Linked DNA regions of Homo sapiens. The protein of the gene in region 2 interacts with the protein of the main gene of each other region in a pairwise test. Each region holds a gene or a part of one and is shown on either strand. Other genes may lie near its edges.

Region 1 (8,404 bases), on a different chromosome or scaffold from region 2:
GTCTCGATCTCCTGACCTCGTGATCCGCCCGCCTCGGCCTCCCAAAGTGCTGGGATTACAGGCGTGAGCCACCGCGCCCGGCCTCTTTATTTGTTAAATAGGGAGTTTGGAAGAGGGACTCTCCATGGCTCTTCTGAATTCTGAAATTCCTTTATGTCTTTGCTCCTCATTAATACATCACAAAAACGAAATGCAGAAGTTGGAGCAAGTTTTGGTCATGGAGAAGGGAGGATGAAACTAAGGCTATGGCTATTACCTACAAAGAAGCAGTTACCAGTTGCCACCTCAGCATACATTAGAGTGAAAGGACATCTCTGGACTTCAAAGGTGGGTTTAGTTTTCAAACAACCAAAAAAAAAAACCAAAAAAAACCTTACATATATTTCTGTAATTAACACTATCCTTAACTCAGCCATGGGAAAGAATACATTTAGTTCAGAATTCTCTTTCTGGGCGCTCAAGGAAAATAATAATGGAAAGATCTCTCCAAAGTCATGGAGTCAAATTTCCAAGATGCCAGGCCACTAAGGAACATTTCTTCAAGGCTTGGGCTCTCTGCCTTCTCCACCTCTTGGAAAAAGTGCTCAAGCTTACAGACAGACTCCTTCCTTCCTTCCCTCAGCATCCACTACCAGTGGGCTTGTTCAGCACTGACATTAGTGAGCAGGCAGAGGCTGGGCCTTCCACTTTACTCAACAGTCCTCCTTGCATAAGCCCTTACTTCCGTTTCCTCTTCCCCTTGCAAGAACTCTCACGCACACCCATGGATTAATCACCACTTGCACAATGGTGACTCCCACAACTTCATCTCCAGCTCTGGCCTTGTCTCTAAGTCTCAGACTCATAGATCCAACAACCTGCTGAACAGACAGACATGCACATAAACGTATAGATGTTTCTTAGACACCTCAAGTCAGTATTTCCAAGACTGAACTCACCATCTTCTTTCCCCACCAAATCGGCTTCTCTTCTCATATCCCAAACTTAGTTAATGGCTTAATGTCCAGTCACCCAGAAAGCCAGAATCTTGGGAGTCATTCTGGACTCTCTTCTCCCCTCACCATTGCCCCCAAAGACATCAAAATTCTGCTAAATTCGCTTCCCCAAGTATCCTGGTATTTTCTCTTTCCCTTCTGTGCCTGCAGCAATGATCTCATTTGGTCTCTCATTGTCTTTTTCCTAAACACTGCGAGGCCTCTAGTCCTGCTGTCCATGAATTCTTCTTCCACCCCGCAGCCAGTCATCCACCTTCCGTGTACATCTGACTACACTACTGGAGGATGGAAAATGTTCCATTGGCTAACCAGCAGCCTGTGGAGGGGTCCACGTCCCCTTGCATTGGGTATACCTGAATGTGGCTCCTCTCCAGTGTCACCTCCCAATTCTCCCCACCATGAACCTGACAGTGTCCCCTTTGCTCATGTTGTCCCCTCTAAATTGCACGTCCTTTTCATTCCTCTTACTTGGTTTCCATATTTAGGCCTTATTTCCTCCAGGAAGCCTCTGTGAATCTCCAGGCTGGGCTAAGCGCCTCACCTCTGTGTTTTCAAAGGACCTCATACATACCATGATTTTTTATCACTTACCATGTTATATTAAAATTATATAGTGACATATGTCTTGCCCATTAGTCTACAGAATCTTCAAGAGTGGAGACCTTATCATCTCCATCAAAAACTAGCACAAGCTTGATACATAATAATAGTTCTTAAACTGAACTGAACTGATGCAGCTTAGCCTTCATCTTGAATCAAGAGAACACCATCTCCTAAATCTAGCCATTGGTAAAATTGTTGGTACCGTTACTATTTTCATACAATTCTTAGAGCTAGGTAAGTCCCTTGATTTCTACTACTGTGTCTCACAGACTGGCATATGTGTGAATCCTTTCCCCCCAGATGATATCTGAAATCACAAGACGAACATAATCCTGGAGTATCAATTTCACCTAAAGATTCTGGAAAAATGATTTTCATTTTAAAACAGATACAGACATATTGTGGGGTAGCATATATTTTTTAGTATTAAGAGAGACTGCACTTATGCCAGGCTGTTCTCAGACAAGTCTCCAGGTCCCTGGGAGTTTAGACTCTATTGTTAGTGCTGACGATTGAGAAACAGTAATCTATAGATCACTGTTTTGCACTGTAGTTTAGTTACTGTTCTAGAGCCTCCCATAGAGAAATAAACAGCCCCAGTGAGACCGAAGCAGGAGCTATCTCAGTAATGGCCAGAAGAGAGGGACTTTCATTGTGGGTCTGAGTTAGGTTTGAAAAGATGTCTGTGTGATTGACAGGTAGGTATTCTGAAATGAGCACAACAATGAGCTTTGTATAATGTATAAAATATGCCAGATTGTAGATCAATGTAGGGGAGGAGGCAGAAAAATGACCATTAGAACAGATCAAAGAGAAGCTCTGGATCAAAGTGCAGGCCGATCAAAGACACTGGAAGGAAGGGAAGGGCACTACAGTCAAGGGATGGAACATGAGGAAAAAAATAATCCAAACTGAACTGTGGCTCAGGAGGGACTCGATGCAGGGTGGTTGGTGATAACCTAAGAAATAATTAGATATTTAGTAGGGTGATATGGGGAGTTTTCAATCCAGGAAATTCTACTTAGAGTCCTAGTAGTTAGAGATCTTTCAAGTTTGTTTTCTTATAGCTATTCCATACCATCAGATTTGAGAATGAGGTAGCATCATCCAAGAGGTGGTGACATAAAAAGATTTAACAGAAACAGAGGAAATAGCAAGGGGACAGGTAGGAAGGGCTAGTTTAAAACAGATAATAGGGTCAATTTAAGTCAACTAACATTTATCAAGTACCTGTTATGCATAAGGCACTGTTCTGGGAGATGGAGTTGCAGGGGTGACAAGCCTGGGCCTGTGCTGTCAGGGAGTTTGCAGTCTTTGTTGAAGTCGCCTAAGAAGGAAAAGCTAACAGCAAAAAATCAGGGTCTAATGGGCAGGCTTTCCAAGTGAGAGGCCTTAAGAAGCTAAAGCAGGAACGATTCCTATCAAACGTAGTATCTGTTCCCTTCACGTGATCTAAAACTTTCCCAGGAAAAAAATAAAAAACATGAATCTGCTCCAAGTTTTGATGATCACTGTGGGGCTGCAGAAGGGAAAAATTGCATGGATTTGGAGGGTGACCTTCAAGGACAGAAATTCTGTCCCAAATTCTAGAGATATTAGAAAAATATTTTCCCAGGCTGGGTGTGGTGGCTCATGCCTGTAATCCCAGCACTTTGGGAGGCCGAGGTGGGTGGATCACAAGGTCAGGGGTTCGAGACCAGCCTGACCAACATGGTGAAACCCTGTCTCTACTAAAAATACAAAAATTAGCTGGGCATGGTGGTGGGCGCCTGTAATCCCAGCTACTCAGGAGGCTGAGGTAGGAGAATGGCTTGAACTCGGGAGGCGGAGCTTGCAGTGAGCTGAGATCGCGCCACTGCACTCCAGCCTGGGCCACAGAGTGAGACTCTGTCTCAAAAAAAAAAAAAAAAAGAAAAATGTTTTCCCAATATAATCCATATTTTGCAAATGGTTATCAAAAAGTAAATTAGTTGTACATGTAGTCAAAGAGTTTTCATTCCCTAGTATCTCAGAGCTTTTTCAATAGAAAATAAAACATGGAGAACATCAGCAACTTCAAAGTGCAGGCGGAGTCAAGGACACATTTCCCATTTTGAATCCTAGACCTCCACCTGTCCACCTTACAACAAGAACCTCCGCTATTAAGCAGATGACATAATAAATACATCTAAGTTATTATGTGACTTTTCTCAAACAGGAATAAATGGCTAGAAATGAGATCTTTCTACAGAGAAACCCATTATATGTACTAGAAAGCACTAGAGACAGATGATGATAAGCCATCAAAAAGGCCTTCTCTGCTTAACCACCCTGCAATGAAGCCAGCCAACCTACAAGCCATGCTCACAGATGACGCACACCATCCCCAAACATGTATAAAGCTTCCAACGTGAAAGGCAGGCCAAAAGCAACATTAAACGTCACTTTAAAAATAGACACAGACATTGTAGGTAGCTGAAGAAAACTTCTAAAATGTAGAAAAAGTACTGAGTTAATATGCTTGGAGAAAGAAGAGAAGATGCTGCGTTCATGAAATGAGAACAGGATACTGTAAAAACCATTCAGAAGACCACACCTCTCGCCAATAAAAGCTCCTGAGAATTAAAAATATAATGGTAGAATGTAAACATTTAATAGCATTGTTGGAAGATTTATTAGAACTAAAAAAACATGGGATATTTTTTAAAATAAAAAAGATAAAATTACAAGACAGATCCAAGAGATCCCATTTTCAGATTCAGTCTAAGTAATTTAAGTTTCAGAAAGAAAGAACGAGGAAATTATATAACAGAAGAAAACCACTCAGAACTGAAGAATGTACTTTTTGGATTGAAAAGGCCTAGAAAATACTTAGGACAGTGACGGATACCTCCCTGTATTCCCCCCACCCCGCCAAAAAACCCACCCCAACATTAAATAACAACATCATGAAATATCAGAATATGAACAATAAAGAAAACCCTACAAATGCCCAGAGATTAGAACAAAATACAAGGGATCAGGAATTAGAATGGCATCAGCCTCTCAACAGCACCGTAAGAAAGTAGAATAAAATAGAGCAATGTTTTCAAAATTCGTACGGGAAATGATTTCTGATTAATATCCCATACCCAGCCAAACCAGCAAGCAAGTGTGAAGGAAGAAAAGTGACATCTCAAATGGGCACAAGCTCAAAAAGCAACCGCATCTTATGGGGCCTGAATCTTATACACTTTTGGGAGCCTTCTTTAAGAAAAAGGCGTAAAATTACAAAAACTGTACATAATTGGGTATGAAAGTACATATGTATTCCACAAGAGATGGCCTAGACAGAAAAAAAAAGTGTGTGTGTATTTAGAATGAGAAAATAAATCACAACAGACAGGGACCGTGGAGGTTCTAGACTCTGTCTTTTCAGATGTGCTTGGAAAATTTACCCCAAATGCTTCTTGATGGCGGCCTGGCGTTTCCTCCCCACTCAACAGCTCCATGCAATTAGCAGCACTCAGAGGGCCCCCATGAGTTTCCTTGGCTCCAGGAAATGACTTCTTGGTGATGAGTTCTCAAACAACTAAAGAAAATGTAGCAACTCCTACACCCCATTCCAGGGGGTTGGGGGAAAGACTGGTCAAGAAGGGAAATGTAAAGATCATGGTGTATCATGTGCCTTAGTTGGGAATAATATATACACCAAACATTGACATATCAAAAATTTAGGATATAACCGTACTGGGAACTTAAAAGAAAGGGATGTGAAGGTGAGAGGGAGGGTGGGGGTGTAAAGGAGCGAAACCCTCATCCTTCTTGGTAGGATGTCAATAGATGTCATCCAGAACTGGAAAAGAGAAGAAGAAATGGCCCGTATCTGCATGCTATTTAGAATATGGTAATATCAGAAAAACACAACCCAAAGCATTGAAAGTAATTGCCGCTAGGGTTCTATACTCAGTATAAACTCAATGAAAACCTTCTACAATGAACGACTTCTAAGACTATACATTGATTTATGTTGACCAAAGCAGATAATTAAAAAATAAAGTATACCCTCAAGAGGAGTGAGGCAAAAAGCTAACAGAAATAAAATAAAGTCGCTTTTGCTAAACTACCTGACATTCGGTGTTTCTCAAAATGTATTCCCGCAACCACCTGCCCTCAGATGACCTGGCGTGCCCGTCCATAATGGAGAATTATAGACCCAGCCCAGACCTACATAATCAGCAGTTCTCAGAGTGGTCCTTGCACTCTACCATTTAAAAAAGTTCCCCTGGACCCACTGCATTACCCATTGCTTTTTAGTAAAACAAACAAAAAACCAAAACAAATAACAACCTATTTAGAGACAGGATCTATGACTCATAAAACACACTATGGCAGATGCTGCTAGCTGCCTACCCAATGTTCATTCTCCCCCCGCCTTATTAACAAAATTCCTATTTTGTTGTTATTATTATTTTTTTGAGATGGAGTTTCGCTCTTGTTGTCCAGGCTGGAGTGCAAGTGGCATGATCTCGGCTCACTGCAACCTCTGCCTCCTGGGTTCAAGCGATTCTCCTGCCTCAGCCTCCTGAGTAGCTGGGACTATAGGCGCCTGCTAGCACGCCCGGCTGATTTTTTGTGTTTTTAGTAGAGATGGGGTTTCACCATGTTGGCCAGGCTGGTCTTGAACTCCTGACCTCAGGTGATCCACCCGCCTTGACCTCCCAAAATGCTGGAATTACAGGCGTGAGCCACTGTGTCTGGCCCAAAATTCTTATTTTGATGTATTGGCAACGTGTCTGTCTCAAACACTAGATTCTCTCTGGTTCCGTCACCGTTAACAGTGTGTATGTGATATGGTTCTGGCCAATGACATGTAAGAAGTCTTTTGGGGTGGGCTACCAGAAAAGCTGTTATTATTATTATTTATTATAAAGAAGGACAGGCCAGGCGTGGTGGCTCACATCTGTAATCCCAGCACTTTGGGAGGCCGAGGGGGGCAGATCACAGGGTCAGGAGTTCAAGACCAGCCTGACCAACATGGTGAAACCCCGTCTCTACTAAAAATACAAAAATTAGCTGGGCGTGGTGGTGCACGTCTGTAATCCCAGCTACTTGGAGGCTGAGGCAGGAGAATCACTTGAACCCAGGAAGCGGAGGTTGCAGTGAGCCGAGATTGTGCCACTGAGAGAGACTCTGAGTCAAAAGAAAGAAAGAGATGAGACAGAGAGAGAGAGAGAGAAAAGAAAAGAAGAGAGAAAAGAAAAGAAAAGAAAAGACAAGACAAGACTCTTCTGGAGCATGCCTCTGCCCGTCTTTCTGCTGCAACTTGCGGAAGTGAGTATGAAAGCTCCATGCTAAGGAGGGTGGTGCGGGAAGACACAAGGAGCCTGTCTCAGATGACGTTCATATCGGAACCCCTTTCCCAGCCCCAGCCTTCTCACCTCCAGACTTCTCGTTCTCTGAGAAAAACAAACTCCTTACTTGTTTAAGCCGCTGTAGTAGGGTTTTCTGTTCTTGTAGCTGAATGAACGTCTAATGACATCTCACACTTTTTCAGATGTTTATCTGACATACCACATTTTATGTATGCCTGCTATGGGCACTGTGCTAGGAATAAGACAAGTAAAGCTCTCTTTGTCATGGAACCAGGAGCACAGTTAGAACAGAAGTTAGAACTTTAGCCACTATAATAACGGCTACAGTTATAATAACAGTTAGAACAGAAGGTCCATAGGCATTTGAGGCTGGGATTCAAGGAGGTTATGTTTGCTGTCACAGACCTCAAACCAAAAGAGTACATCAAAATAAGTCACTGGATTTATACATTTGGCAAATTCTCAAGGGACCACATGACAGAAGGAGCAAAAATCTGAACATTGTTTTTAGCTGTAATTCTCCAATGAAGTAGATTTGGGGAAGCAACATGAGGTACTTGCTTTATTTTTCTTAAATCCGGTTTTCTTCCTTGAAAAACCACAAGATTGGACTTGACAATCTTTAAGGTTATACTCAGCTCTAAGATATTTTTGTAATTATATGGAACAAAGATGGGCATGAAATATACCAAACGAGAGAGTTTCTAAATTTAGATTCTGATAATTCAAGTCAGAAAACATATTAAGTGTTCGGGAAAAACAAATCACAATCTTCCATCACAAAATTCAACAAGAACAACAAAAACCACTCCAGAGGCAGCTGTGGTATTCTGGAAGGAATGTTGGTTTGAGTTCTGGCTCTGCCATTTAATTACTGGCTAACCCTGGACCACATACACAATATCTCTGTTTCCATCTCCTCATTTTTGAAATACGGATTCTAATCTGACCTGAACAGTGCTGTTTACAAACATCGCCTTGTGCTCTATAAAGCCCCATTATGATTTCAACAACCAGCAAGATAATGGCTTATGATATCTAAGTCCTGGCAAGGAGAATGCGGGTGTGTACCTTGCTATATTCAGTTGAACTCTGCATCACATACAGAAGGCTGATAGACCTTTTAGCTTTCCTTTTTCCTCCAGTAGTGTAGCTTGTGGCCATTTAAGTTTTACACAAGAGAATAGAAAAGAGAGATAAAATTTGCTAAAATTCAAATAGTCTATTTGTGTTTGTTTCTAGCCTCAGTGAAGGTTTTGGGGAGAGGGGTAGCTGGTTAAAAGAGTAGAAGCTTAAGAGTTCAAAGAAAGTGTGAGGAGGACAGCACTCACCTGTGGCCTCTAATTGTTCATATTCAGTATGGTCTCATACTGGGAATAATCTAGTGTTTGTCTTATGATCTTTCTATAGAAACAAATATGGAATGTGTCTATAAGTACCATTAGTTGATGACACACTAGTGACTTTAATTCT
Region 2 (8,404 bases):
GAGTGTGGGTGCGTGTGAAAGAACACCCACAAATGCTGTGCACTTGAAGCCTGCCTCTCCTCTGATGAGACTGGATGCTTGTTAGGAAGGACCCTAGATGTTCAACATTATCCAGTTCATCTTTTTCTGAACTCCGTGATTCTAAATTTTCAGCAAATTGTAAAGAAAATTTCTCCAAAATTCCAAAATTAAAGGGGATTTATGAGGCCCTATACTGTATGTGATACACTAAGACTCTCTTGCCACTCACTGAGCATGCACATGCATGTAAATGCACACATGTAAATGAGCATGTAAATGCTCACATGTGTGTGTGCACACATACACACCAGTTCATTCTCTTGTACTTGTTTTTCCCAGTTAAAATAGAAACTCAGGAAACTGGACTGAGGAAGGTCTGTATTCAATGGCTATTTGTTCTCTGGAGAAAAGGAGAGAATTGAGCTGACTAGCACCAAGCCTCAATCCAAGCCACTGGTCAATGAGGGTTTGTTGAATAACTACATGAGTGATTACATGATTATATGATAAATTTGCTGAAAAAACATAATTATTTGGGCAAGTCGCTCTTTGACGGGTAAATGTAATTCTTTTATCTCATTTATTTCCCTTCCAGTATTTCATTCTGATGTTTATAGTATATGCCTTTGAAGTGGCATCTTGTATCACAGCAGCAACACAACAAGACTTTGTGAGTACAACCTCAAAAAGCAAAATAATATGAATTATCATTATTATAACAACCAACATGTATTAACCCCTTACTATGTGCCCAGGCAATCCAATATGCACAGTAATAATACATCTATCATTTTACTTAATCCTCATAAATCTATGAAATAGGCATTATCACTCTGGTCATTTGAGAAAGGAAAAAAAATGAGACAGAAAGGTAAAATGACTTGTCTAAAGTGACATAGTTGGCAACTGAAAGAGCAAGAATTCTGAACCCAGATGGCCTGACTCCCAGGGCCCAAGTTTGTAATCCCCTGTGGGTTTCACCACTCTGCCATGGCCATGGGCCTTCCAATGGGAGGATCTCTGTTCTACCTCAGCTAAGACGTGCTCTCAATTCTACATCTTTCTTTCTCTCCCATTCTCTGTTTTCCTAGCCTAAGCCACCCTACAGTATGTGTTCCCCTGGCCTCATAGTGATTTCTTTTAAGATGAGAGTCTCTTCTCTGCATGGGGACTTATGCCAACCTCAGCCAGCTGTACTTGGTGCCTCTGAGTACAGTTTTGCTCCAGGAGAGAATGTTCAGTGTCCCCAGGAAAAGACAGAGAAAAATATTTTCCTCTCCTTGAAAATTAGCGTGCTATCTCTCCCTCTTGTGTTGCCTCTTCCTACTATAGTTCACACCCAACCTCTTCCTGAAGCAGATGCTAGAGAGGTACCAAAACAACAGCCCTCCAAACAATGATGACCAGTGGAAAAACAATGGAGTCACCAAAACCTGGGACAGGCTCATGCTCCAGGTAAGACCTGTGGTCTTGGGGAGATGCCATTTTTACTTACTGGTGGGAGTGGGTGTCATACACATGACTCAGTGGGACCCTATATTTTATTTCAAGCCATGATGATTAGCTTACATTTGTTGGAATGATTTTGTCAAGAAACTTAGGTTAATCATACACTCTCCCTCTTAGAACTCAGGTATCATTTACATTAAAAGAAAAATATTTTCTCTACCCCACAGTGAACTCGAGTGGTAATTACTGCCTGTTTCGCCTTTTGGGTACCTCTTCACAACTCCTGTGAGCTAGTCTTGCCAAGGACCAGGCCCTATATCTTGATTTGATCACCCAATTTTCTCCAACTGGCAATCATAGTTTATGTCCATGTTTATCTCCAGTGCCATCAAAAGTCCAAGTCTTCCAGAATATCCATCATCACCCCCACATTGCCCTCTGTATGCAAATTGTTATCCTCTACATAACTACCAATCTGACCTAGCTTTCTTACTGGCCCCTGCTCCTACTCCACACCCCACCACCAACTTTTTACAGTCTGTCATCAGCAAACTCCCTTATAGCCACCACTCCTTCTATGAACTCTTTACTATCTTTTTCTTGCTTCATTGGAAATTTGGCTATCTCCTGGGAGTGCTACCTGCCCTTCATTTTCCTCCCATATCCATGTACCATAGGACCTGGAAATTGGCTAGGTGTCCTTCTTGCTCCCCTTGGCTGCCATACTATTTGCTTCCTTGATCTACATCACCCCTTATCCTTCCTTGCCATTACTTACCAGCCTCCCTACCCTCAGTCGTTCTCCTGCCTTCATTAGGGATTTCAATATCTCACTTAACTATCTACCTCTTCAGTCATACTCCTGATATCCCACCTAGAAACTTCAGCAGCCACATGGATGACTCAGCAACATTTAGTCTCACAATTCCTTGTCCTACCCCATTCCAAAGATTTTGTCTTTCTCCCCACCTCCACCCTCTTCCATGACCATAGTCAGCATGCCATCACCAGTAACTGTGCCACTAAGAACATTCCATTCTCTGACCATTAATTTCTATCATTTCTTTCATTTATTCTAATATCTCAATTCTAATAATTTTATTCCATTAGGACCTCCAATTAATTGACCACTTTTTAACTTTTATCACCCCTTTCATGTTTTCTCTTTCCTCTTTGCCTAACCCATATTCAGGTCCAGCCCCATAGCCAGTCCTTCCCTACCCTTCTCTGTGGGTCACTCTTTCCTAACCAAGCCCACCGAGTAGAATATAGCTTTTTGCTCACTCTTCGTTTATACTCTAAGAGCTAAACATTGCTGAGAAAAGTCACACAACCATGATCATTTCAATTTAAACTTGTGACCACAGAGCTCAAATGGGCACACAATATTTCCTAGTATATTTTCCCAGAAAATTCACTTGTCACTATTTCACATGTTCTTCCTTCATGCCTGCCACACCTCTTCTCACCCTCCCTCTCAGTTGATGACCCGACCTCATATGTTTTTAAGAATATAGAAGAAATTAGACAAGAACCACCTCATCTTTCTACCACCAAATCTACATTGATATACACCTGTGCACTTTGCCTTCTCTCTTGTTATGTCACACAGGCTGTCCTTTGTCCAGCTCTTTTGATTCTGTTCTGCATTCCATCTCCTTTGCCCCAACAGTCTTCCCTGCTCTGATCTGCCTCATCAGTTTCTCCCTTTCAACAGCCTACATGGACACCTTAAATTGTCTATCTTATAAAAAGACTCCCTTGTCCAACATTCACCCACTATTCTGTCCTACTACTGTTTTGTTTTATTCCACAGCAAATCTCAGAAGAGATGCCTACACTTGTGGTCCCATTTTCATCCCTCTCATCTGCTTTCATCCAACTACAATTGGCCTCTGCCTCACCACTCAACAAAAACAACCCTGCCATAATTACCAATTACCTCCATCCTGCCAAATCCAATAGCCAAGTCTCTGTCCTCATCTTCTTTGACATCTTATCAGCATTTGTCTCACTGACTACTCCCGCTTAGTCTCCTCTGCTGGGTTGTCACTCTTTACCCAAATCTGAAGCTTGGAGTGCTACAAAGCTCAATTTTGGACCCTTAAATCTTCTCTGTGCCCACTAAATCCTAGTTTGAAATAAGCCTGGCTTAGACTTAACCATTTTTCCCAGAATGCAGAATAATTATTTTTCTTGGTTAGATATTTCCCATAACATAGTGACAAAATTGTATATCCTTTAAAGATGGTTGATTTATCATCAAGTTTACTTGAATACATTCATTCTAAAAGTTCCAAGATACCCATGGTTTTAACTTCCTCCCTTTTGAAGGATTTTAGGAGAATTGATAACAAAGAAGGAAAGCTATATGAATTGTGTTTTGTCCTCTATTCTCAATTCTATCCAGAGTGTAAGGGATGTATTAATTGGTCTCCCTCCCCTATGTGGAGACATAGCTCTGTGTCACCAGGTTATTTTTTTCACTTTATTTTCTCCCATTATAAAAATAATACCTAATTACTCTAAAAAATGTTTAAATGTATAGAAAAGCAAAACAAGAACAATTACTCATAACTTCACCACTAAAATTTTTAATTTTATGATTCTCAATTTGCTTTGATATAATCTTTAATTTTATGATTCTCAATTTGCTCTGATATATCAGAATAATTATTCCTCTCTCACATTGTTATATCAATATATTAGTACAGTATCAATCATAATTAACATTTATTAAGAGTTTACCATAAGCCAGGCACTGTATTGAGCACATTAAGTATATTAACTCATTTAATCCTTAAAAAAACTCTATGAGATAGGTACTATATTCCAATTTTACAGTTAAGGAAACTGAGGCTTAGACAGTTTAAGTAACATGTCAATGGCTACAGGGTTCACTAATGACTAGTAAAGTAGGAAGTGTAAAAATTCTTTTACAAACTGTAAAATGTAAGTTGTAAGTTATCAATACCTTCAGCTGTCATTTGGGGATTTCTTAGTAAATGTAAGATATGGTACACTTTCCGTATCTTCTTTCTCTATAAAATTTCAGTTGCTACATTGATGGCTCTAGTAGGGACCACGAAAGAGAATTTTGTATCTCTCATCTGCTGACAGGACAATTGCTGTGGCGTAAATGGTCCATCAGACTGGCAAAAATACACATCTGCCTTCCGGACTGAGAATAATGATGCTGACTATCCCTGGCCTCGTCAATGCTGTGTTATGAACAATCTTAAAGAACCTCTCAACCTGGAGGCTTGTAAACTAGGCGTGCCTGGTTTTTATCACAATCAGGTGAGTCCTCTCTCCTCCCAAGACTTCCCAGGAGGTTCTGCTGCTCTTTATGAGAAAAATATTGGTCAACTGTAGGAAATAGTCTTTCAGTAAGGAATTCTACATTCTTTTCCCTAAACCTCATGTTAACTATTTCCTTCTCTGTTAATAAACTGCAAATGCTAAACCAGGACTGATAGGGGCAAATTTACATTTTAATAAAATTAACAAAACATGAGAATTGCAATAGCAGAACCCAACTTTGTTTAAATGAAGACAATTTGCACAATGTATGGAATTGGTATGTCAAGAAATATTTACATTAAACAAAGTTTTGCTCTAGTTTTGCAAAATGTAAATTGGAAGGGATGATGTGCAAAAAGAATGTTTTGCCAATTCCAAAGCAATGACTATTGCTGAGGATAAATGTAGTAATTACACATCCACATTCCTTATTCAATGGTAAAGTAGGACAGTCTTAATAAACATTAGGTTGGTGATTTGGATGGAAGGTAGTTTACATACAGATAGTTTTTGAAAAAGTTTCCAGGCTGATGAGGATAATGTGATTACGATCATGAAAACTAACATTTATTGTGTACTTACTAAATGCCAAACACTGTTTCCAGTGCCACACATACACTATCTCCTTTAATGCTCAGTAGTAGGTGCCAGTAGGATCCCTGTTTTACAAACGAAGAACTTAGACGTAGAGATACTAATAAATACCTTGCTGAGGTCACACAACTAGTAAATGTCCGTCTTTTCAAAAAACTCTCTGGCTTTTGAAACATGAGTTTTCTGCCTTCAAGCACAGACTCTAAGCCAGTGAAGACTTGTTAATATTCCCCAAAAGCCCTGATGAGAACCTCCAGGTACTTGTAGTCAGCATCTGCTGACCCTGTACACTGAAACGCTGTGCTCTGCTCAGGGAGTTACCTCTTTAAGGAAAGCTAGTTGTGTACCAGCTCATTAAATAATTGAGAAATGTCAGGCTGTTTTGTTTGGGAGCAGTACAAACTGCATGTTCAGATTGAGGGACATGGCACTGTTGCTGACAGGGTGCCTGGACTAGAACTGGATGCATTATTCCAGAAAAGGGCATGGGAGTGTTCTAGATTATTTTGCAGCAGTGTCCAGAGCAACCCTCATTGAGCTTTACTGCAACATTGTCTGGCATTGTTTTAATCAATTATATTCAGACTGTTATTAAAAATTAAATTTGCTGCTTATAATCAAGGTGTACAATATAATTATTCTCAGGACTATAAAAGGCTTTTGATATTTCAACACTGGAACTGCTCATGCAAACAAATCTTGATTGGATTGTAATTGTGTACAAACTGTATTACCTCTTTGAAAGGGATAAAAATAGGACATTTGTCTTCAGATAACCAGTTTATTTCATAGTTATACCTTTTTTCCTAGCACATATAATATTTTAGTTATGAGGACAAACCTGAAGCTTTTCTCAAGTTTAGATAGATGAGAAATTGAGGAAAAGATACAAATGAACTATTTTCCTCTACCTTGGGACCTCCACACCCATTTTGACAATGCTTCTAACACGTTCCCTTACAGTTCCCTGGCCTCATCTGTTCTAACAATTCCACCTCCACTACCCTACAGTTCCCTGGCTTTATCTGTTCTAACAACTCCACCTCCACTACCTACCAACTACAAATTCATCATCACTCAGCCCTACTCCTCCACCAAATTCCTGAATTCTGAAATTCCTCTCTCTGTTCCTGACTTCCTGTGCTCCTTGTTTCTCAACCTCACTCATTCTGCTCCTTTGACATAATCTCTTATCTATTAGTCCTTTCTGATTCTCCCTAGCCCAGCCTCCCAGATTCCCACACACCACCATTCTCCCTGACTCATAGGTCTTGCTAAGTCCCCTCTTGCCATCCTTTTCCACCAAGAAAAAGGTGCTACCCCAAGACCTGGTATACTTTATTTCTATTATTGCATTCACTACCTGGAACTATATTTGTTCCCAAGTCTATTTTTTCTGAGTCTCCTTGAGGACTATGTATTATTTGATTCTACAGATTTGATATTTTTAGTACTTAGCATAATGCCTGGCACAAAGCAAGCACCGACGTTTGATAGATGGGTGAATAAAGAAGTGAATAGTGAATGGTTTTTCTTTTTCTTTTTTTTTTTTTTTTTTTGAGATGGAGCCTGTCTCACTCTGTCGCCAGGCTGGAGTGCAGTGGCGCTATCTCGGCTCACTGCAACCTCCACCTCCCAGGTTCAAGTGATTCTCCTGCCTCAGCCTCCCAAGTAGCTGGGACTACAGGTGCACGCAACCACACCCAGCTAATTTTTGTATTTTTAGTAGAGATGGGGTTTCACCATGTTGGCCAGGATGGTCTCGATCTCTTGACCTTGTGATCCACCCACCTCAGCCTCCCAAAGTGCTGGGATTAAAGGAGTGAGCCACCGTGCCCAGCCTGGTTTTTGTTTTGTTTTGTTTGAGAGACAGGGTCTCACTCTGTCACCCAAGCTGGAGTGCCATGCTGCAATCACAGCTTATTGCAGCCTCAAGCTCCTGGGCTCGAGTGATCCTCCTTTCCACCTCAGCCTCCCAACTAACTACAGGCATGTACCACCAGGCCTGGCTAATTTTATTTTTTGTAGAGATGAGGTCTCACTGTGTTGCCCAGGCTTCACTTTTTGACAACCATATTGTAGGTTTTCAGGATCTACAATGCACAAATGTGCTGCTATAGCTGTGAAGACTAACAAAATTAGGGAAGTCACTATAAGCTTGTTAATAGTAGAAATTAACTAGAATTTCACACAGCATGTCAGATGCAAATATATATATATTCTATGTTATGGTTTATGTGACTCAGAAATGCTATGTGCAAATTGTGATCACTATACCTCAAAAATGTTATAATAAAATGAAGGAAGATCAAGTAAAGTACCACTAAATTGACTAGCATCACGAAAAGGCACTAAATGATGGTGAAAAAAATGGGGCTTCTGTCTGTGAGCTTCATGAAGGCAAGGCCCATTTCTGTTTGCCACAGCTAAATGCCCAGCCAGTACTTGGCACCTGGCATAAGTGGGCCCTTATATATATATTATTAGATGAACGACCACCTCCCAGGATTGTTGGGAGGACCAAGGAGTAGCAGATATGGGAGTGTTTTGTGAACCATCAAGTGTGTTGCAAATTATACTATTGTAAACATTAATGTTCCATTCATTCTGTAAATGTTTATTACGTGTCTACTATGTGCCAAGCACTTGTTCTAGGTTCTAGAAATTCAACAGTGAACAACATAAAATCCCTGCCCTCATGGAGCTTGCATTCTAGCATGGGAGACAGAAAATAAACATGTTACCAAACAAATACATGATAAAATTCCAGGCCCAAATAGGCCATGAGCAGAAATAAGGCAGGGTGAGTATATAGAGTAGGATGGAGAAAGGGTCTTTTTCTCTGTCACTGTCAGGAAAGGCTTTGTTGAGATGATATTTGCAGAGGTTTGAATTAAGTGAGAAAATGAGACACCGGAAGATTGGGGAGGAAAGTTCTACAAGAAAGGAGTTGTGAGTGCAAAGGCCCTTAAGTGGGAGCAGGCCCAGCTTTTTGAAGGAGCATAAAGGAGATCAGTATGACAAAGTCAGAATGAGT
Region 3 (7,320 bases), on a different chromosome or scaffold from region 2:
AGCCATTTTACATTTTGGTTTTTGAGAACATAATAGGGACCTGTATACTCCTTGTGGGGCCGCATTTTAAGACTCCTGACAGCTCATCCTGCAAAATTAAAATCCAAAATCTAAGTCGCAAAATTCTCTTTTCTCCTTCCTCAGTTATTTACTTAGAGTGTAGAACAGACATCCTCTTAGAGTTTTTTGTAACTATCAGTTATCGTTAACATCATATTTTTATTCTAAATCCTTCCATAGAAACACTGCTTGTTGGGAAAAAAAAAGGCTTTTACTTTGTTTCACCATTGTACAGAGGGTAAATGAAATAACTTTCGCTGAATATTTGGTCTATAATACTGTTACATTTCCTCTATTATTTTAACATCTTTTGAAAAATTCAAATTTTTACTGTTCATTCACATATCATTTTAAATTGAGGTTTAGTTCACATACGATGAATGCACAGCTCGTAGGTATACAGTTTAACGACTTATGACAGTGGTATAACCACAAGACCAGCAACATTTGAATCTTTCCATCACCCTAGACAGTTTGCCCTGTGTCCCATTCCAGTTAAATTACCTTTCCTACACACACAAAGGCAACTACTGTTCTGATTTTTGACACCAGAGCTTAGACCAACTATTATTTAAAGTCATGTAAATGCAAATATGTAGTATACAATCTTCTGTGGCTGGATTTTTTTTCACTCAACATTTTTTTTGGAGATTCCTTCATTTTGTTGCATGTATCAGTTGTCTTATTTTGAATTGCTGAGCGGAATTCCCTTGTATGGATATACCATAATTTGTTCACTTATTTTCCTGTTGGTGGATATTTGGATTATTTCTGGAATTTGGCTCTTAAGAATAAAGCTGCTAGGAGCATTCTTGCACAAGGCATTTTGAGAACATATTTTCATTTTTCTTGAGGATATACATAGGAGTAGGTTTGTTGGGCCATAGAAAAGGCATATATTTAATTTTATAAGAAACAGTTTCCAAAGTGTTTTTCCAATTTACTCTCCCACCAATAATATCTGAAAATTCCAGTTGCTCCACATCTGCAGCAACTTCACCAAAAAATACTGTCACGTTTAAAATTTTGTTCAGTCATTTTAATGTCAGATATTTATATAGCAATTCAATATTTTACTTTATGATATTATCCATATTTATCCCATTCACATCATTTCTCTCAAACAGTAACTACAAGGAGATTAAGGAATTATGCTAGAATTTTTTATTTATTTATTTATTTATTTTTTTAGACAAGGTCTCACTCTGTCACTCAGGTTAGAGTGCAGTGGTGCAATCTCCGCTCACAGCAACCTCTGCCTCCCAGGCTAAAGCGATCCTCCCACTTCAGACTCCCAAGTAGCTGGGAACACAAGTGCGTGCCACCATGACCAGCTAATTTTTTGTATTTTTGGTGGAGACAGGGTTTCACCATGTTGCTCATGATGGTCTTGAACTCCTGAGCTCAGGTGATCAATCCACTCACCTCGGCCTCCCAAAATGCTGAGATTACAGGTGTGAGCCACCATGCCCTAGAATTTTTTTATGTGTCTTCTGGGGCATGTGCATATTTAATAAACGTTCTTATCATCATTAAAACAAACTGATTATATACTTAGAATTTTCATAGTTACTAAGTGTATAAATCATATGTGTCAGGTAAATATTTTGGGGAGACACTTTATAATCTCATCATTATGCTTGAATTGTTTCATTTCAAGCCAACAATAAACTATTCAAATTCACTCAAAATTGGGGGTAAATTAACTTAGAAATTTCTATAAAGAGACGGGGAAATTTCATATAATGAGATAGGAAATATTAAGTTTAAATGCCTCAAAAGAATGTTGCATATTCCTATAGTACTTCTATAGTCTGCCTGAACTCATCATCAACTTTCTCCCTTCCAGATGATGCCACCAGTCCCCATTTCTCAACACGTCATGAAGGGTCCTTCCAAGTTCCTGTCCTGTGTGCTGTAATGAATGTGGTCTTCATCACCATTTTAATCATAGCTCTCATTGCCTTATCAGGTGGGTCTACACTTCATCAATTCTTTCAAAGCCTCCTAGCTGTAAGCATTCATGCCCAGCTGAAATCAATATTAGTTTAGTCTAGTTAATCAGAAACTAGCTAATTCAGAATCATCCCATGTACCATATATGGCCAATTTCCTAATCAATACTAAACATAATTCCACAATCCTTGAATAATTAATGTAATACTTTTATAAGTATTAAAAGTATCTATGATTTATATATTACTGTAGAATAAAATTGCATTTGAAAAGATGTTTACATCTAGAATGAAGGGAGCTGATTTGAATTCTGAATAAATACCTATTTAGCTAGAAAAAAATGTGAACTTCACATTCATTGATTATGGAAAAAAATCGTATCTAAAGCCATAGATTAATCAGGAAGTGGCCAGTCTTTTGTGTTTTATCTCAAAGGACACAGAATGGTAGTTCTGAATAATTAAGATTATATTTAAAAGTTCCCAGAGAGTCAGTAGTGATTTGGTATTCAATACCTCCAGCTGTACCAAGATATATTTGTATCTTTTACAAATGGGAATGTTTACCATTGTTTTGAGATATTCTGAGTCATATGTCTTTCTGTATTTTGAATTGGTTCCCTAAAAGTTAGTTACTCTCTCCATCTTTCCAGCCTAGTGCTATAAATACTGCATCTTCAAATTCTTCCGCCTCTGCATTCAGATTCAAAACCTTATTTGAAATGTATAATGCACTTTATCCTTTCTAGTCCAAAGAAATATCTAGTCCAAATTTTCAGAATTGTTCTATATTTCTGTCATTTTCTGACATTATGACCAAAAGTACATCCCCTCATCCTCATATCTCCATCCAATGATGATTAGGCACAATGGAAGATCAGATATGGTCCTGAGAACTTTCTTTCTTCATACCCTTTTCAGAATTCTACTTTTTAGCTTTTATCCTTTACTTTATCACCACCTAGCACAACATAGCATCCTAAGGCTAGTTTTGCATGCTGTGGGTATTTGGTTTCTTTTGTTACTAAAACAAAGCATTTTTCTGTTCACAGTGGGCCAATACAATTGTCCAGGCCAATACACATTCTCAATGCCATCAGACAGCCATGTTTCTTCATGCTCTGAGGACTGGGTTGGCTACCAGAGGAAATGCTACTTTATTTCTACTGTGAAGAGGAGCTGGACTTCAGCCCAAAATGCTTGTTCTGAACATGGTGCTACTCTTGCTGTCATTGATTCTGAAAAGGACATGGTAAGAATAAAAAAAAGATAAAATACTACTATTTTAATTCATATGGCTAATCAGTGCTTTCCTTCCGTTTCTAAGTGGAGAAAACAAACAAACAAACAAACATTGTACCTATTTCAGATGTAGGAAAATGTCATCCCAGAGAACCATATGATCAGCCTGAGGTCAAAATGAGATTTAATTTAATCTTTTAAATTTGATTTGATTGCTTAGCTTCAAAGACCAGAAATCCAAATATGCTGATCCTATATAGAATGAGTACATGGTCAGATAAGCTGTCATGCCTCAAGTTGCAGCTTTTGAGAAACAGGATTTACTATCTACTTCCCCAGAAGGGTGTTTAATGTAACAAACTCCTTTGTGCTTTCTTTAAGAACTTTCTAAAACGATACGCAGGTAGAGAGGAACACTGGGTTGGACTGAAAAAGGAACCTGGTCACCCATGGAAGTGGTCAAATGGCAAAGAATTTAACAACTGGTAAGTCTCCAGAAGTCTCTTTATATTCCCCAGGGTGGCATCTCAGGAAAATCACTTTCCTTTTCTCCTTTCAAAGCACTTTAAATATAAAGGCTGAGCTCTTCAAGAGCTCTAACAATCTCTTCTGAATGCGTATACTCTGGAATTCTTTAATAACAGGCTTTATTATTATTCTTTTTCTTTATCCACACTTATAATACATAAAATAAATGCTTATAGTAATTTTTCTCAGCAAACTCTAATGTGAGTAGTAGATCTGGTTAATTTGGAAATATTTCAATAATAATTATGATGATGCAACAAAAACCCATTTTCAATGTCACATTTAGTCTTTACTAATAAGACAGTTGCTGGAAAATAAATCCTTCTTACTATTTCTCAGTTTTCATCTCCACAGAATAAAGAATAGTTTCAATGCCTAATTATGAGTTTCTATACACCTGAAAGAAAATTTGCCCCAGAATTAGATACTCTATTTTCATTACCTTTAGTTAAAATACATTTAATGTTTGAAGATCATTTTATAAGTTTGCTGTTGATCATAATACTGATAAAGTATCGAGATTAAAATTCAGGTTTCTAGAAAAGGGATTCCTAATATTTGTCCTATGGCTCCATATCCACAGATGGGCTTCAGGAGCCATAAACCCCTTAAAGCTGTATGCACTAGTATGCATGGCTGTTGAATGCATACAATTTTGTGAAATTATTTATTGAAAAATCTATGAACTCAGAAATGACCAAGAATCACTTATCTGGTGCCATGCCAACCAAATGAATGGCGTGCTTTCCTCTTACTTCCATATTTTTTCTCCACATCCTATTTTTTTTTCAATTCTTGTCCATTGTCTCTACAGATTAGTCTATGATTATTTGACTTGTGTATCCCACTAAGAATTTAAAAGAAGCAGAGGTCACCATCTCCGAGTTCATTCTCATGTAACTGAATGAAAACAATGAGCTGAAAATAATTCTAAGTTTTTTTATTGTTTGACAGGTTCAACGTTACAGGGTCTGACAAGTGTGTTTTTCTGAAAAACACAGAGGTCAGCAGCATGGAATGTGAGAAGAATTTATACTGGATATGTAACAAACCTTACAAATAATAAGGAAACATGTTCACTTATTGACTATTATAGAATGGAACTCAAGGAAATCTGTGTCAGTGGATGCTGCTCTGTGGTCCGAAGTCTTCCATAGAGACTTTGTGAAAAAAAATTTTATAGTGTCTTGGGAATTTTCTTCCAAACAGAACTATGGAAAAAAAGGAAGAAATTCCAGGAAAATCTGCACTGTGGGCTTTTATTGCCATGAGCTAGAAGCATCACAGGTTGACCAATAACCATGCCCAAGAATGAGAAGAATGACTATGCAACCTTTGGATGCACTTTATATTATTTTGAATCCAGAAATAATGAAATAACTAGGCGTGGACTTACTATTTATTGCTGAATGACTACCAACAGTGAGAGCCCTTCATGCATTTGCACTATTGGAAGGAGTTAGATGTTGGTACTAGATACTGAATGTAAACAAAGGAATTATGGCTGGTAACATAGGTTTTTAGTCTAATTGAATCCCTTAAACTCAGGGAGCATTTATAAATGGACAAATGCTTATGAAACTAAGATTTGTAATATTTCTCTCTTTTTAGAGAAATTTGCCAATTTACTTTGTTATTTTTCCCCAAAAAGAATGGGATGATCATGTATTTATTTTTTTACTTCCTCAGCTGTAGACAGGTCCTTTTCGATGGTACATATTTCTTTGCCTTTATAATCTTTTATACAGTGTCTTACAGAGAAAAGACATAAGCAAAGACTATGAGGAATATTTGCAAGACATAGAATAGTGTTGGAAAATGTGCAATATGTGATGTGGCAAATCTCTATTAGGAAATATTCTGTAATCTTCAGACCTAGAATAATACTAGTCTTATAATAGGTTTGTGACTTTCCTAAATCAATTCTATTACGTGCAATACTTCAATACTTCATTTAAAATATTTTTATGTGCAATAAAATGTATTTGTTTGTATTTTGTGTTCAGTACAATTATAAGCTGTTTTTATATATGTGAAATAAAAGTAGAATAAACACAATGGTTTCCAAGAAAGTTCATTCCTTCAAAATACATTAAAAAGTATATACTATATGAGAAAGCAGAAAACAGTTACTATAACTTAGGAAAAAATCCCATGTAGAGTAAAACCCTTAGTTTTATAATAGCTTATACATATCAAATTGTTTTCATATGCTTATATGCTAAAGGGTGTATGTATCCATATCCATTTTTCTGTATATAGCAGATGCTCTGTAATAATTACTCCTCATAGTCAATGCTCTGAAAGTATCTTGTTCAATTCTGAGGTGCTACATACACTTTAGTTATTTATGTAAAATAATTCAATATATAGAAAAGAGGCATAATCTTCATGGGATATTTCAATCAGCAAAAAACTCAATGATGTAGTTTGGATGTGTGTCCCTGCCCAAATCTCATGTCGCATTGTAATCCCCTTTGTTGGAGGTGGGGCCTGGTGGGAGGTGATTACATCATGGGAGCGAATCTCTCATGAATGGTTTAGCATCATCCTCTTGATGGTCTCCTTGCACCTGAGTGAGTTCTCAGGAGATCTGGTCTTTTCAAAGTGTGCAGCACTTTCTCTCTCTCTCTCTCTCTTTCTCTCTCTCTTTCCTGCTTTCTCCATGTGACATGCCTGCTCCCACTCCACTTCACCTTCCAACATACATAAAAGCTCCCTAAGCTTCCGCGGAAGCTGAGCAGTGTCAGCATTATGCTTGTAAAAACTGCAGAACCGTAAGCCAATTAAGCCTTTTTTCTTTATAAATTACCCAGTCTCAGATATTTTTATAGCAATGCAAGAATAGCCTAATACATTTGATTACCTTCAAAATTGTTTTATAAATGTAATTTGCAATATTCTTCTCTGCTTGTTGGAAATGTATGATGTGTATGGTATCTCTAAACTATTGGCAAACGGCAAACAGAAATGTGGATTTCAGACACTGCTTAGTGAAAAATAATGACCTCTGTGCTCCTGAGTTCCCACAGCTGTGGGAAAAAAGAAACAAGCAGCCTCCTAGCGGTAATATTCTATCATTACCAACAATCTACTCCCGAGTCATCTTAGAAAACAATGTCTTGCGATTAATATTTTAGTTATAACATATTTTTATGTGCATAAATCTAATCAAATTATGAAAATTGAGAGCAAGCTTAAAAATATTTCTATATTAGTATGACACAATTTTTAAGTCATTGAATACTGACTGTATCACCTAACAATTCAATGAATTTTATCATTTTTACAAATAATTTTATTGAATCCCTATAATTATGTGAAATGAGCAGCTGATGTATTTCCCTTTCCAGAGGAAGAAGTTGAAATTATGTTGAAAAAGCGACGCAAAACACGGATAACAGAGTTATTTTTTACACATAATTTGAAGTCATTTTATTCATAAGGACAACTGTTTTCTTTAAATAGATAAAAAATATACAATTCTTAAAGGGAATAATGTTATTATTTAAAGTATGACTCTACTTGCAAGTGA
Region 4 (8,404 bases), on a different chromosome or scaffold from region 2:
GGGAATGACCTGTGGAGAGGATTTGGGTACAGTTTGTTCTGATTTTCTGCTGTGACCAAGAGGAGAGGGTCAGCCCTTCCTAATCCGCATCAGGTCTCTGGAGGACACTGGCAGACGGGGTGGCCAGGTGGGGGTGGGGACATGGTGGCCAGGCACACTGAGGCAGGCCAGCGCAGGAGGAGAGGGTCCTCTGTGTGGTCACCCCTCCTCACCCCCTGCCCCCCGCCCCCTGCCCCGGGCGAGCCCTCAGCCCATTCACCATCTCAGCCCCGTCTGGACCGTTCCCAGCTTTGGTGCCCTAGACCCTGTGGCAGGCAGGGCCCTGGGCCAGGTACCAGGTGCCAGGCAGTGAGCAGGGCAGCAAAGCTTTGTGGGACTTTGCCTGCCTGGAGGAGCCTGGTTCTGGGGAGGTGGAACTGCTCCCACCAGATTAGTCCTGGGCTTTTGTCAGGCCAGGCCTGGCAGGTCCAGCTGGACTCAACTCCAGGGTGTGTTTGGCCTCGGACTTGTGGAGTGATCCAGAATAAGTCCCTTCCCCTCACTAGGCCTGTCTCCCCATCTACTAGATGAGGGGTTGGCTGGGCTTCCAGCCCCTTGCCAGCCCTGAAATTCAACAATTCCATGTCATCTGTCCTTGGCACCTTATTGGCCGTCTGGCCACCGTGCACCTCAGCCACTGCCTCTTCAGGTGGGCACCGACCTTTAATGCTCTGGCCACTGCCCTTCCCCTGCCCCTTTGCCATCTTACTGCCCACCTCTCACCTGCTGAGCCCCCCTTCTCGGTCCCCCTGCCCCTGCCCCCCAGCCAGTGCTACTTAGCTCTGTCCCCATCTCTCCCACTCCACCCCGCGCAGTGGCGGATCATCGTGGGGGCCACCAAATGCATCCCCAAGTCGGAGCTGCCTGAGGAGGTAGAGGTGACCACCCTGGCCAGCACGCGGCTCTGGACCCACCCCAGCGACCTAACTATAGCCCTCTCAGCCAGCACTCCACTCTACCCGCCCGGCCGCATCATCCACGTGGTCCACAACCACCCTGCAGAGCAGTGCTGGTAGGTTCTGCCAGGGTCTGCTGCTGCAGGGGGTAGTGGCCAGGGCAGGGGCAGTGGAGAGCAGGGCCGGCCTTGGCTCAATCACCGCTCGGGGCTGGGGGTGGAGGCTGGGAGAAGATGGCCCAGGGCCTCCATGGAGGGGTTTCCCCAGCATCGGGCTCTGGAAATGGAACAAAAGGCCAGCCCTGAGCAGGACTCCAGGCGTCTCTCTCCATAGTCTGGCTTTGCCTCCAGTGTCAGCCCTTCCCTGGTGTGCCCCAGGGCAGCTCTCCCCACTGGTGGTCCATTTAAAAGTAGGTGCCCTGGAGGGCTCACCCCTCAGGCCCTGGCCAGCTCACACCTCAGTTGTCACTTGGTTTCACCAAGGGAATTCCTCGAAGACAGCTGTGAGCAAGGTGGGGGCTGCGCCAGGAGAGAGAATAGGAGCAGGCAAGTGGGTAGACCTTTCCCACTGTGCTCCTTCAGACGGCTGGGCCCTGGCTCCTCCCTCCAGGGTCGGCTTCCTCCCCTGACACAGCTGGTGAGCTGGGCCGTGCAGCAGGTGGAGCAGGTGTGGCCCAGGCCAAAAGCAGGTCGAAGGCTGTGGAGGGACCATGGCTGAGGCTCGAGGTCAGCCTTTCCCAGGCTGAGGGCAGGGCAGGAGCCAGGCCAGGGAACAGAGCCCTGCTGCCAGGCAGGCCAGGGGCCTCCAAACCATGCCAGCTCTGCTGAGCAGGGCAGAGAACAGAGCCAGGAGGCCCTGGCACCGAGGGCCAGGCCACCACCCCACCCTTAACTCCCCTCTGTCCATGTCCCTCTCAGCTGCTGTGAGCAGGAGGAGCCCACATACTTTGCCATCTGGGGCGACAACAAGGCCTTCAATGAGGTGATCATCTCGCCAGCCATGCTGCATGAGCACCTGCCCTATGTGGTCATGGAGGGGCTCAACAAGGTGAGGCAGCTCCCGGCAGGGTACCACCAGGGAATAAGGCACTGTCACCCCATCAGAACCCCGTAAGCACCATCAGATCACTGCCCGATTTTACAGACAAGGGTGCTGGGGCTCAGAGAAGTAGGTAGCTGGGCCAGAAAGCCCCACTCAAATACTTCAACCTCACACCCCTGGCTCTGTCCACATCACCACGTTGCCCCATGGTGGGGAGGAGATAAGGAGACTCCCAGGGGCCTGTCCCTGAGGCAGGCTCAGCTCAGAGGCCCGGAAGGCCACCTGGCCCTTAACAGATGAATGGGCAAGCAGCGACAGCCACAGCCATCCCCTGGCTGCGGAAAGGCTGAAGGCAGGTAGGGCAGGAGCACTCGCCGGGCTGTGGGGCGAGTCGTGACCAGATGGGCAAGTCTCAGGCCTTGGGGAGTGGTGACCTCAGGAGGAGGAGAGTGGGACCCAAGTGACTCCATGAGGCTTTGCTTGGCCTGAGAGGCCTGGGCCCTGGCTCCACATCGGCCCCACGATGGGGCCTGATGTCCCTCCACCACCCCCAGCCTCCTCTGTCCTGTCCTCAGGTGCTGGAGAACTACAACAAGGGGAAGACCGCTCTGCTCTCTGCAGCCAAGGTCATGGTGAGCCCTACCGAGGTGGACCTGACTCCTGAGCTCATCTTCCAGCAGCAGCCACTCCCCACGGGGCCGCCCATGCCCACTGGCCTTGCCCTGGAGCTGCCGACTGCAGACCACCGCAACAGCAGCGTCAGGTGAGCCTTGGCCACTCCCAGCCCCACCCCAGGGTGAGTGTGGTTCAGAGCACATAGACTTGTGTGCACATGCATTTTGTGCATGCACTGGGCTCAGCTCTGCACACGTGCACAGGAGGGGTCAAACTCACCCTCTGTGCTCTAGGGCTCTCTTGCTGTGCTCCAGCTGTCCCACAGCCTGCTGTCCCTGAATCCTACATGAGCCAGGGGAGGCACACAGACCCACAAACCCTGGGCCACAAAAGCACAGATTCACTCTTTTTTTTTTTTTTTTTTTTTGAGACGAAGTCTCGCTCTTTTCCCCCAGGCCGGAGTGCAATGGCGCGACCTTGGCTCACTGCAACCTCCACCTCCCAGGTTCAAGCGATTATCCTGCCTCAGCCTCCCAAGTAGCTGGGATTACAGGCGCCTGCCACCGTGCCCAGCTAATTTTTGTATTTTTAGTAGAGATGGGATTTCACCATGTTGGCCAGGCTGGTCTTGAACTCCTGACCTCAGGTGATCTGCCCGCCTCAGCCTCCCAAAGTGCTGGGATTATAGGGGTGAACCACCATGGCCGGCCTGCACAGATTCACTCTTACACACTTAGACGCAAACAGATGGACACCCATTTACTTACATATTTGTATTGAAGCTTACACACATACATGTGCACACAATTATTAGTTATAAGTACACAGGTCACCCCCTACAGACATGCACATGTACAAGACACACACCAAGACAAAGGTGGAGACACATATACAAGGACACATGTGGACAGGCAGGTGCTCATGGAAATGCATGAATACACCTGTGCACAGACCCAGACACACAAGCCAGCTGACATACACAGACGTCTGGTCTACACACTCATACACATGAACAGAGGCGTGCACACATGCTCACAGGGGCACGCACATGGGGGCCACAGCGCCCTTGCTATTCACACACTCTTTGAGGGGTGCGAGGCTCTTAAGTGGTAGTCCTTCCAGGGGAGGATTGTCCTGCCTTTCTAGGACCTTCCCACACAGGCCCTGTGTGCTTGGTCACAGATCTGGTCAAGAGGCTGCTTCCTGGCCCTTGGTAGGGACAACTGGACGTCTCTCCCTGCCATTTGTGCATTTCCTGTGGCAGCTGCACAACCCGATGAAGAAGCCAGTGTCCATTTCCGGCTGCGGTGACTGCTGCAAGCCACCCACTCCCTGCCCTGTCACTCATTCCCTGCAGGCTGGTCTGCGGAGCCAGGGGCACTAGGCTCCCCACCCAGCAGAGGGCTGCGGCCCATGGGAGACAGGAGGAGACCCGGATGAGGAAGGAAGTGATGAGATCCCTGGGAGTGGCACCCAGGGTTGCTGGCTCTGAGATTGGGGTGGAACCAGTTGGGCAGCTATGTGCAGGGCTCTCTCCCTTCCCTGTCTCCCTGCTGCCCTCTGTCCCTCCCTCCCTCCCTCCCTTCCTCCTTCCCTCCCTCCCTCCTTCCCTCCCTCTGTCTCTCTCATTCCACTGTGGCCTCATGAGTGACCTGGGGCAGGCTCATGAGTGATCTGGGGCAGCCAGTCTATCAGAGCCTCATTCTCACATTGGTACAATGACAGGGGTTCTGGTGCAGAGAACCCCAGCAGCACTCCTGAAGTCCTAGTGCTGCCAGCAGGGCCTTAGCCCCTCAGGGACCCCGCGGCTCAACCCAGCATCAACTCTTTTGTCTTCTATCTTGGGTTCTTGTGAGTTGTTTTTAAAAAATAATCATTCCTGGCTGGGCGCGGTGGCTCACGCCTGTAATCTCAGCACTTTGGGAGGCCGAGGCAGGCGGATCACCAGGTCAGCAGATTGAGACCATCCTGGCTAACATGGTGAAACCCCATCTCTACTAAAAAATACAAAAAATTAGCCAGGCATGGTGGCGGGCACCTGTAGTCCCAGCTACTCGGGAGGCTGAGGCAGGAGAATGGCGTGAACCCAGGGCGGAGCTTGCAGTGAGCCAAGATCGTGCCACTGCACTCCAGCCTGGGCGACAGAGCGAGACTCTGTCTCAAAAAAAAAAAAAAAAAAAGAAAATAAGCATTCCCTGCTGCACATCATCAACAACTGCTAAATGAACTGTACCCTTTATTCCCTGCAAGTTCCTTTTAGCCAGGGAGCTGGGGTTCAGTCCCCTCTCCCTTCTGAGTCTTATACCCCCTGCTCTCCTCTCCCTCTGCAGGAGCAAGTCCCAGTCTGAGATGAGCCTGGAGGGCTTCTCGGAGGGGCGGCTGCTGTCGCCAGTGGTTGCGGCGGCGGCCCGCCAGGACCCGGTGGAGCTGCTGCTGCTGTCTACCCAGGAGCGGCTGGCGGCGGAGCTGCAGGCCCGGCGGGCACCACTGGCCACCATGGAGAGCCTCTCGGACACTGAGTCCCTGTACAGCTTCGACTCGCGCCGCTCCTCAGGCTTCCGCAGCATCCGGGGCTCCCCCAGCCTCCACGCTGTGCTGGAGCGTGATGAAGGCCACCTCTTCTACATTGACCCTGCCATCCCCGAGGAAAACCCATCCCTGAGCTCGCGCACTGAGCTGCTGGCGGCCGACAGCCTGTCCAAGCACTCACAGGACACGCAGCCCCTGGAGGCGGCCCTGGGCAGTGGCGGCGTCACTCCTGAGCGGCCCCCCAGTGCTGCGGCCAATGACGAGGAGGAAGAGGTTGGCGGTGGGGGTGGCGGGCCGGCCTCCCGCGGGGAGCTGGCGCTGCACAATGGGCGCCTGGGGGACTCGCCCAGTCCTCAGGTGCTGGAATTCGCCGAGTTCATCGACAGCCTCTTCAACCTGGACAGCAAGAGCAGCTCCTTCCAAGACCTCTACTGCATGGTGGTGCCCGAGAGCCCCACCAGTGACTACGCTGAGGGCCCCAAGTCCCCCAGCCAGCAAGAGATCCTGCTCCGTGCCCAGTTCGAGCCCAACCTGGTGCCCAAGCCCCCACGGCTCTTTGCCGGCTCAGCCGACCCCTCCTCGGGCATCTCACTCTCGCCCTCCTTCCCGCTCAGCTCCTCGGGTGAGCTCATGGACCTGACGCCCACGGGCCTCAGTAGCCAGGAATGCCTGGCGGCTGACAAGATCCGGACTTCTACCCCCACTGGCCACGGAGCCAGCCCCGCCAAGCAAGATGAGCTGGTCATCTCAGCACGCTAGCACCCCAGTTGCGTGGCCAGCCGGGCCCAGGCAGGAGCAGGTGGCCCTGTGGGCACCTGGTGCCTGCCCCCTGCCGGGCAGCTTTAAGGACAGACCCCCAGGGGCAGTTTAGCCTCAGGCACAGGCATCGCTGCTGAGCTGGGGGTCCGCATCCCTACCTCAGCTTAGGACCCCCAGAGCCAAGGTGGCTGGGATCTGGCCCCACAGATGGGGAAAGATGGGGAAGGGTGTGGAGTGGGGAGGAGCCTGGGCAGCCTGCTGGGTGGGCCACACTCAGCCTGACTGCCCTCCATGGGGGCATTCTGGCACCCCCTGCTCCAGGACAGGCCATGGGCAAGCTGCCTCCCATCACTGCCTGCTGGCTGCTCTCCCAGGGGCCAGGTGGAGAGCAGTGCCCCCCGACACATGTATTCTCATCTGTGGTCCAGGCCGGCATCGTCCTGGCCACCCCCCAGATCTGGTGCCTGCTGGCCGGCCCCCTGGGGTGCCCCTGCCGAGGTGGCCTGCAGTGCTGTACATGTTTACAGAAGCTGCTGGGCTTGGCTCAGGATGTGTTCTGGGCTTGCAAGCCCCCCGCCCAATCATGTGTTCAGTAGCCGTCCTCTGAGCAGGGCCCAAGGCAGCCAGGGGCCTGGAGGGGCCAGAGGAGGGTGGGGTCAGGGCCGCCCCTTCTCTGCCTTGTGCCTCTCATGCTGCCTCCTCTGCCCATGGGTCCTGGGCACCCAGGCCTGCCCTGCCTGCTGGCTACTTCCTGGCTTACCTTCTACCCCCAAGGATCCTCACCACCCAAAGGGTGGTGGGCACTGCTGTGACCACCCCAGCTGCAGAGTCAGTGCCCTGGGTGGAAGGAAGGCACTGAGAGCCCCCTTCCTCTGAGGGCCCCACCTCACCCCTTGGTGTCACCCCCACCACGCCTAGGCAGCTCTGGGCCCTGGGATCTGGAACCAACACACCCCTGTTCCCCTCAGCTTTCCCTCCTCGCTGGCCTGGGCACCCTCCTGGGAGCAGGCCTTCCTCCCTCCCACCCCCAATGTCCTGTTGGTAGGAGGTGGGGCCAAGAGTGGGGTATGGTGGGCCTTGGCTGGAGACCTCTGTCCACTGCCCAGGGAGGGGCCTGGGGCTGGGAGCAGTCCCGGTTTAGCCTGAGGTCCCCATAGGGCTTCCTCCCCTGCTGGGTTTGGGAAGCAGTTAGGGAGATAGCGACCCGGAGTTTCCCCAGAAGCGGGGTGGGAGGGTGTGCATGCTAGTGTTGGCGCGTATGCATGTGCATGAGTGTGCACCGTTCCTAAGGAAGGGGCCTCTGGGGCTGCCCACCCTACCTGCCCTGCCTGCCTGCTGCCCCTCCCAGCCTGCCAAGAAAACGGTAGGGGAGCATGATGGGGCCTTTGAGGCAGGGTCGCAGGGACAAGCTCAGCTTTAGGCACCATCTGTTCCCATCGCGCCTGCTGCTGTGACCCGTTTTGGAAAACTGGTGTGTACCGAGGCGCTGACTGCACGGCTGACCGCCTGCTCGTGCCTTCATTCTGCAGCGGCATGGTCCCTCCCATTCTGGCTCCACCTGCAGCCTCCCTGGGTGGCCTAGGCTCCCCCGACCAAGAGACCTCCCTCTCATGATCACTGGTACCTGGGGGCCTGAATTCTGGCCCCCGGCTCCCCACACAGCTGGGACTGGCCTGGATGGCTGTCCTGGGAGCCCCTGCCCACCCTGACAGAGGGAGCTGGGCCTCCCCTCATCCTCTGTAACTCCCGCCTTCACCAGACTCAAGGACACCCTGGCCCTGCTGAGGCATACAGAGCTTCAGCCCAGCACAGAAGCAAGACAAAATCAGTGGCTCTTAGAGTTTAGAAAACAAGACAGACTCTCAGATGAAAGATCTGACAAGCACCGTGGCCAGTCACAGGGAGAGACTTGATGTCTGGCCTTTTAATTCCTCCTCTGCCAGGGTGGGTCCTGGGACCTCTAATGTGGGCATGTCGTCCACCCCAGGACGAGCCATCAGGGACAGACCCCCCACCCCCAAGGCTGCAGCCACACCATGTTTCAGGCTTGGGGCTGGGGCAGGCTTGGGCTCAATCCTGGGCACCCAGGGGCAGCCCACCCCTAACCTGGCTCCTACCCACCTCGCCCTTGAAGGATGGGCCTGCTGCACGTCTCCCTCCTCCACCCCATACCACACTGGGGGGTCTGAGCCACCCCCCTCAGCCCCGTTCGGCTCAGACCGACCCCCACTCCATCCCCAGACCTGCAGCACAAGTGCGCGGGCCTGTCCTCCCAGGGGCCTGGGCGACTCCATATGCAATCAGTAGCGAGCAGCCGGGCCCCACAGACCCTCATGCACTCTCTTACGTGCCATTCTCCCCAGACTTTTTTTGTACTTAATGTATGAAAGATCCAAACTAATATTGCTGTAAAAAGGAGAGACAAATTAATATAGCTTATTCTATAAATATATCTGTATATAAAGGTTTCTGTATATTGTATAGAGCTGTGTATAAACTGGATGTAGAAGCACGCTGGCTGCCTC

What was found.
Region 1: the proteins of UPK1B (region 2) and TMEM45B interact in binary tests that used the Homo sapiens proteins (3 or more experiments, as listed by UniProt).
Region 3: the proteins of UPK1B (region 2) and CD69 interact in binary tests that used the Homo sapiens proteins (3 or more experiments, as listed by UniProt).
Region 4: the proteins of UPK1B (region 2) and DAGLA interact in binary tests that used the Homo sapiens proteins (3 or more experiments, as listed by UniProt).

Annotation. Positions count from the first base shown.
Region 1 is NC_000011.10:129,817,947-129,826,350, reverse strand, and holds part of TMEM45B (transmembrane protein 45B), read right to left. Parts: intron 1-8,404.
Region 2 is NC_000003.12:119,189,629-119,198,032, forward strand, and holds part of UPK1B (uroplakin-1b), read left to right. Parts: intron 1-616; coding exon 617-691; intron 692-1,353; coding exon 1,354-1,476; intron 1,477-4,590; coding exon 4,591-4,770; intron 4,771-8,404. UniProt on the Homo sapiens protein: Component of the asymmetric unit membrane (AUM); a highly specialized biomembrane elaborated by terminally differentiated urothelial cells.
Region 3 is NC_000012.12:9,751,009-9,758,328, reverse strand, and holds the end of CD69 (early activation antigen CD69), read left to right. Parts: intron 1-1,909; coding exon 1,910-2,032; intron 2,033-3,067; coding exon 3,068-3,267; intron 3,268-3,638; coding exon 3,639-3,742; intron 3,743-4,739; coding exon 4,740-4,848; 3' UTR 4,849-5,843; downstream 5,844-7,320. UniProt on the Homo sapiens protein: Transmembrane protein expressed mainly on T-cells resident in mucosa that plays an essential role in immune cell homeostasis.
Region 4 is NC_000011.10:61,738,611-61,747,014, forward strand, and holds the end of DAGLA (diacylglycerol lipase-alpha), read left to right. Parts: intron 1-566; coding exon of another isoform or gene 567-688; intron 689-854; coding exon 855-1,051; intron 1,052-1,852; coding exon 1,853-1,982; intron 1,983-2,551; coding exon 2,552-2,739; intron 2,740-4,921; coding exon 4,922-5,879; 3' UTR 5,880-8,391; downstream 8,392-8,404. UniProt on the Homo sapiens protein: Serine hydrolase that hydrolyzes arachidonic acid-esterified diacylglycerols (DAGs) to produce the principal endocannabinoid, 2-arachidonoylglycerol (2-AG).